Regions from separate parts of the Homo sapiens genome. Here region 2 is linked to region 1. The links come from fine-mapping of genetic effects on gene expression. A gene starts in region 1. The other region holds a variant in brackets. All regions are shown on one strand. Distances are between the middles of the regions. Region 1 holds the start of WWP1 (WW domain containing E3 ubiquitin protein ligase 1). Region 2 overlaps WWP1 (WW domain containing E3 ubiquitin protein ligase 1).

The links.
Region 2: its variant is fine-mapped to the expression of WWP1 in regulatory T cells (Bossini-Castillo 2019, PIP 0.95).

Annotation. Positions count from the first base shown.
Region 1 is chr8:86,341,111-86,343,878 of GRCh38, forward strand. WWP1 (WW domain containing E3 ubiquitin protein ligase 1) reads left to right here and starts at 1,437. Exons shown (of 25, transcript NM_007013.4): 1 at 1,437-1,820. It overlaps WWP1-AS1 (WWP1 antisense RNA 1), which reads right to left. Exons shown (of 6, transcript XR_007060994.1): 2 at 2,480-2,550; 3 at 1,972-2,166. RefSeq lists a silencer at 1,528-1,987.
Region 2 is chr8:86,428,991-86,432,028 of GRCh38, forward strand. It overlaps WWP1 (WW domain containing E3 ubiquitin protein ligase 1), which reads left to right. Exons shown (of 25, transcript NM_007013.4): 12 at 1,707-1,761; 13 at 2,416-2,500; 14 at 2,625-2,753. Among named protein-coding and RNA genes, the nearest start is that of RMDN1, 78 kb to the right of the region's middle. The variant CAT/C (reference allele first, on the strand shown) is at 1,808.

The DNA of each region.
Region 1 (2,768 bases):
GGAGAAGGAGTCCAGATCCCTGCTGGGGAATACCTACGGAATTTCTGAGGACGTGTTTGTAAGCACATTATTGCATCTATTTAAAGGGACCAGACAGCAAAAGCAAAAAGATGAAGAAAATCTTAGTACATGTTTAAAGCAGAGATGAGTGGGCACATATGGGGCACTGTGAAGAGTTTTTCATAACAGGAGAGATAGAGCATGTGAGCATCAAAGGAACCTTGAATATCACGTTAATCTTTGTCAGGAGAGCTCCGAAAAGCCAAAGAATGATTTTAAGCAGTGGAATGACACAGATGTATATTTTCGAATGATCTTTGTGGATATAATGTGCACCAATTTCAACTATGAAGCCAGAGGACAAGAACTAATGCATGGAGGTAGGCGGGAATGTGCATTGTTCAGTCAAGAGATACTTGTTGAATTCTGTACACACTCATGAAGTGTTGGGGTTGTTTTTGGTACACAGTTCTTTCAAAAAGCTCAGTTAAAATGGAAGGGGAGAGAGAACCAGAGGTTTTAAAATCAAGGGAAAATTTAGGACCTAATCTTAAAACGTGATTATGCTGAGGAGTTGTAGGCAGTGGAGAGGGTGAAGTTAAAGATGTGCCAAGGACCGCCCACAGTGGGGAGCAGGCAGTGGAGAGGAGCAGGGACATCTAGCCTCCGAGATAGAAGGAAAACTAGTAAGTCTGGGTGTGGACGTAGATATAATCTATGGGGGTTGGTCAGGTGGTTGGGCAAAAGCTGTAGAAATCCATGCCTGAAGGCTTCTGCTTCTCTGAAGTAGAAACCGGGTCACCTGGTAAGCAATGTGGTCCCACTGACTTCTATTTGCACATTGGCCTTTCTTCTAAAAGCAATACACATAACCAACAGTACTTTTCTAAACTAGTTGACTTTTCTGTAAAATGCAGACAGTAGACACTACTTTGTCAGATTGTTGTGTGCGTTAATTGTGCGGACACGTATACTCGGTCAATAAGTATCTGCTTTATCACCGGGCTGATGTGAGTGAGGACTAGGTGGTGGGGCTTCCACAGATGAACGTTTTGATTAATAAAAAATGGACTGAAAGTCTTCGGGTATGACCAATGGCTAAATGCAATTATTTACTCTTGCAATGTGTTCGAGGTCACCCAGCTAGGTCAAGGAGTATTTATGGACAGCCTACTTTTGCCCCCGGACCTTAAGAAGTCCTGCTCCGGGATCAGCCGCCGACCGGAAAGTCAAATTAGCAGTGCCCAGCGCGAGCTTAGAGCAGCCTCTTCCCAAATCTCAGCGGCGGCCCCGCCCCTTCCACACGTTCAGGCCCCGCCCCTCCCTACTATTGGCTGTCCGTCCCCCTCCGCTAGACTGCTCGGAAGACCCGGAGGAGCGGAGTTTTCCTAAGGCAGCATCCGAGCGCCCTCGCTGCGCATGCTCGGGGGAGGCGGATTCCGGGTCCGGAGTTGGAGGCTTTGGGCGGCCGCGGCGTAGCGCGCGGTGCCGGGGCCGGCGGGGAGGCGCGCGCTTAGGGCGCGGCGCCGGCGACGCGGCCACGCGGCGCGCTCCCGAGGAAGGGAGGTGTGGGGTCGGCTGGGGGTGGCGCGTGGACGGGGTGGGGGTGGGGGGAGGGTCGGGTGTCGGCGAGCTCCGCGTGCGGGTTCCGAGTGGCTGCTGGCGGCCTGGGCTGCCGGGGCCGACGCCTGGGTGGCTGCTGCCGCCGCGCCTGCTGCGAGATGGCGATCTTGGGCGCGGAAGGGTGAGGGCGCCCGCCGCAGGAGGAGGTGCCGCTGCCGTGGCCGCCCGGCTGCCGGGAGCCGACAGCTTCGCGCCGGGTAAGGACGGCGCGGCGCGGGGCTGGGGGTGCGAATGGGCAGGGCGGGAGGGGGCACGGGCCCTGAGCCTTGGCCGCGGTGCTGGGCGCCCGGCGCCGTCCGCCCCCGGGCTGGACCCTCCTAGGACCCGTCGGGGGACGGTCCGCCCTACCTTGGCTACCTTCTCCAGCCCGGGAGTCGGGAGTTTTCTGGGGTGGGGTCACGGGTCTTGCCCGGAGTTCGCCCTGGCAAAGGCCTGTGCCAGTGATCCTGGAGCGGAGCGAAGTGTTTCCGTGACTCTGCAGCCGCAGTTCTTAGGCTTCCTTAGCCTTCTCTTCGCCTTCCTCCACCTTTCCCTAACACCTCCCTGAAAACACAAATACATGGACTCATTGCCCGTTCCCTGACTTTCACCCCAATTTCAGCGTTGCAAACCAAGGACTCCAGCTTTGGAACGTCTTTTTCTGACATGTTTTTATCACTCTCCGTTCTTCACCGACTCTGCAGCTCCCCATCCCCCGCCCCCCCAGCGCAACCCCCACCTCCACCTTTTGTGACCTGGTAGGTTCCAGTGACCTTGCAGATTTTACCAGTCCTTATCTTGTCTGTGACTTACAGACTCTCCTTTCATCTTCGTGTTCTTTTTTTAAAAAAATTTAATTTTGTAGTTTGCTCCTTACCTTTACGACCTTTAAATGATCAGTCTTGTTCACAGTCCTTTCTTTGCTCTGCCGATTTGGAGTTTTCTCTGCTGTGGTAAATATATGAAACCTTCATTACCAAAGAAGAGTAGTGTCTGTTATAATTTTGACATTTTTACTCTTTCAGAATAAAATATTTTCCAGGGGCTTGATTTTGCCTTCTTTTTCTATTTGATAAGTTTAACAAATTTTTTTCTGTGTGTGTGTAGGTTAATGTGGAACAAGATTTTGTGTTTCTGCTTTAAAATGTTACTGGTAATAGTAGTGG
Region 2 (3,038 bases), 88 kb after region 1:
AGTACAACATCAAGTCTGGGGTAAAAGTGTAAGTGCTGCATTGACTCAGTAGTGTCATCAAGGACCCGGGTTCTTTCTGCCCTTTTGCTCTGCCATCCATATCGCACTTCAGGCCTGTTACTTCGTTTATATACTCTGCACTATGGGCCTCACATCCATAGTCTAGGCAAGAAGAAAGAGAAAGAGGAATTGAAAGGGCAGATGGCTCTGTTGTTGCAAGCCCTTGCCTTTTTTACTTAGCGAAGGATGCCCTCACCATGGCCTTCTGCCTATACCTCATTGGCCAGAATTGGTCACTCTACCAACTCAGCTGCAGGGAAGGGGGAATGGAATGATCTTTATGGCCACGTTTCTACCTCCAACAAAACAGGGTTTTGGTTCTCAAGAACAGGTGGAAGATAAATATTGAGTATAATTAACTGGGTCTGTTACAAGATTATATTCATCAAGATGCATATACTTTAAGAAATTATTTTTCAGGTAATGATTTTTATATTTGTCATTATTATAGAATTCTTGATAGAATACTTATATTTTCTTCAGAATATATTTCTAGGTTATAAGAATGGAGGCATACATAAAAATGTGTTTTTATGTATGTATGAAAATATAAAAGATACTAATTAAAAGTTTATTTCTATAAATGATACTGGAGTTGAGTGTTAGTTTTATTAGTGGGCATTTGTTTTAAAGAAAATTGTGATAACTGTTCTATTTTTAAACAAATAATATTGCCTCATTTAAACATCATAATTTCCTATATGTTCTTCTCCCATTTCATCTTCCCTCTATAGATTAGTATGGAAGGACTGGGAGAGTAAAGTATTGATGCCAGTGTATTATTTTTAAATCATTTTCGAAAAACTAATAATTAATTTGATAGTTGATAGTCTCCTCTTCGTGACATTTTATGAACTTAGTGTCTTGGCTGGGAGCGGTGGCTTACACCTGTAATCCCAGCACTGTGGGAGGCTGAGGCGGGTGGATCGCTTGAGCCTAGGAGTTCGAGACCAGCCTCAGAAACATGGCAAAACCTTGTCTCTACAAAAAATACAAATATTAGCCGGGTGTGGTGGCGCATATCTGTAGTCCTAGCTACTCGGTTGTTGCTGAGGTGGGAGGATTGCTTGAGCCCGGGAAGCAGAGGCTGCTGTGAGCTGAGATCACGCCACTGCACCCCAGTCTGGGTAATAGAGCAGGAAGATCCTGTCTCAAAAAACAAAGAACTTTGTGTCTTGAAATTGCTATATTTCCTTATAATGTGGACCTATCTATCTGTCTATATAATAATATAGATATATTTTTGAGACAGCTTCTCGCTCTGTTGTGCAGGCTGGAGTGCAGTAGTAGTGTGATCACAGTTCACTGTAGCCTCCACCTCCTGGGCTCAAGTGATCCTCCCACTTCAGCCTTCCAAGTAGCTGGGACTTTAGGCATGTGCCAACACATCTGGCTAATTAAAAAAAAATTTTTTTTTATAGAGACAGGATCTTCCAGGCTGGTCTTGAACTCCTGGGCTTAAGTAATCCTCCCACCTTGCCCTCCCAAGGTGCTGAGATTACAGGCATGAGCCACTGCGCCCAACCCCTTATCATATTTTTAGAAAATTATTATAAAATGTGATTCTGCCACATGCTTGGCTTATTTCTACTTTCATATTAAAACACTGTTATTTTATTTCTCTCCCTAATCTTTTCTCCAATCAGGCTTCAATGTTAGCTGCAGAAAATGACCCTTATGGACCTTTGCCACCAGGCTGGGGTAAGCTGTTTTTGCTAATGATCTATAAGGGAGATATATATCTCTC[CAT/C]ATATATATATATATATATATATATATATATATGTTCCTTATTTTATATATATATATCTCCCTTATATATGTCCCTTAACATATATATATCCCTTATAATATATAATATATTTAATATGGATTATATATTCTATATATTATATATTCTGTAGAATGTTATATATTCTGTATACTATATAGAATATATAATCCATATTAAATATATTATATATTATAAGGGATATATATGTATATTATATATGTATATATTATAAGGGATATATATATGTATATTATAAGGGATATATATATGTATTATATATATAATATACAGAATATATAGAATAGATTATATATTAAAGAATTATATATTATAGAATATATATTATATTCTACATAATTATCTATAATATAATATATATTATATTCTCTATAATATAATATATGTTATATTCTCTATAATATATATTATATTCTATATAATATATTCTATAATATATAAGGGATACATATATCCCTGATATGTTTTTATATATATAATATATATTATATATAATTATATGTGTTCCTTATTTTATATATAGATCCTAAATAGTTATTAAATATTATACTCACTTTATATTTCAGAAAAAAGAGTGGATTCAACAGACAGGGTTTACTTTGTGAATCATAACACAAAAACAACCCAGTGGGAAGATCCAAGAACTCAAGGGTATGTATATACAGCAGCCTTAAGTCGTCTTGCATATATCAGTAGGTAGAACCAACCAACCTTGAATGAGATATTTTTAGTACCTAGAAAAGGTTCATCTTGTGATTTTAACTTTATCTTTTAGCTTACAGAATGAAGAACCCCTGCCAGAAGGCTGGGAAATTAGATATACTCGTGAAGGTGTAAGGTACTTTGTTGATCATAACACAAGAACAACAACATTCAAAGATCCTCGCAATGGGAAGTCATCTGTGTGAGTGAAAACCTGAAGTTCTCCTTTAAATATTGCTTAGTGAGCACATGAGATTTAGTCTCTAATTTATCCTCAAGTTTAGCAAAACATTTTACTTTTTGGTTCAAGAAAACCTACACAAGTGAAACCTTAGTATAGCTGTCTTTGCTCTCATTTGACAATGGATTTGCAGCATGTAAACTATTTATGTAGTGATTACTGTGTGCCGAGGATTGTTCTAAGTACTTCATAGGTATTAACTCATTTTATCTTCCAATAACCCCTTGAGGTAGATACTATTATTTT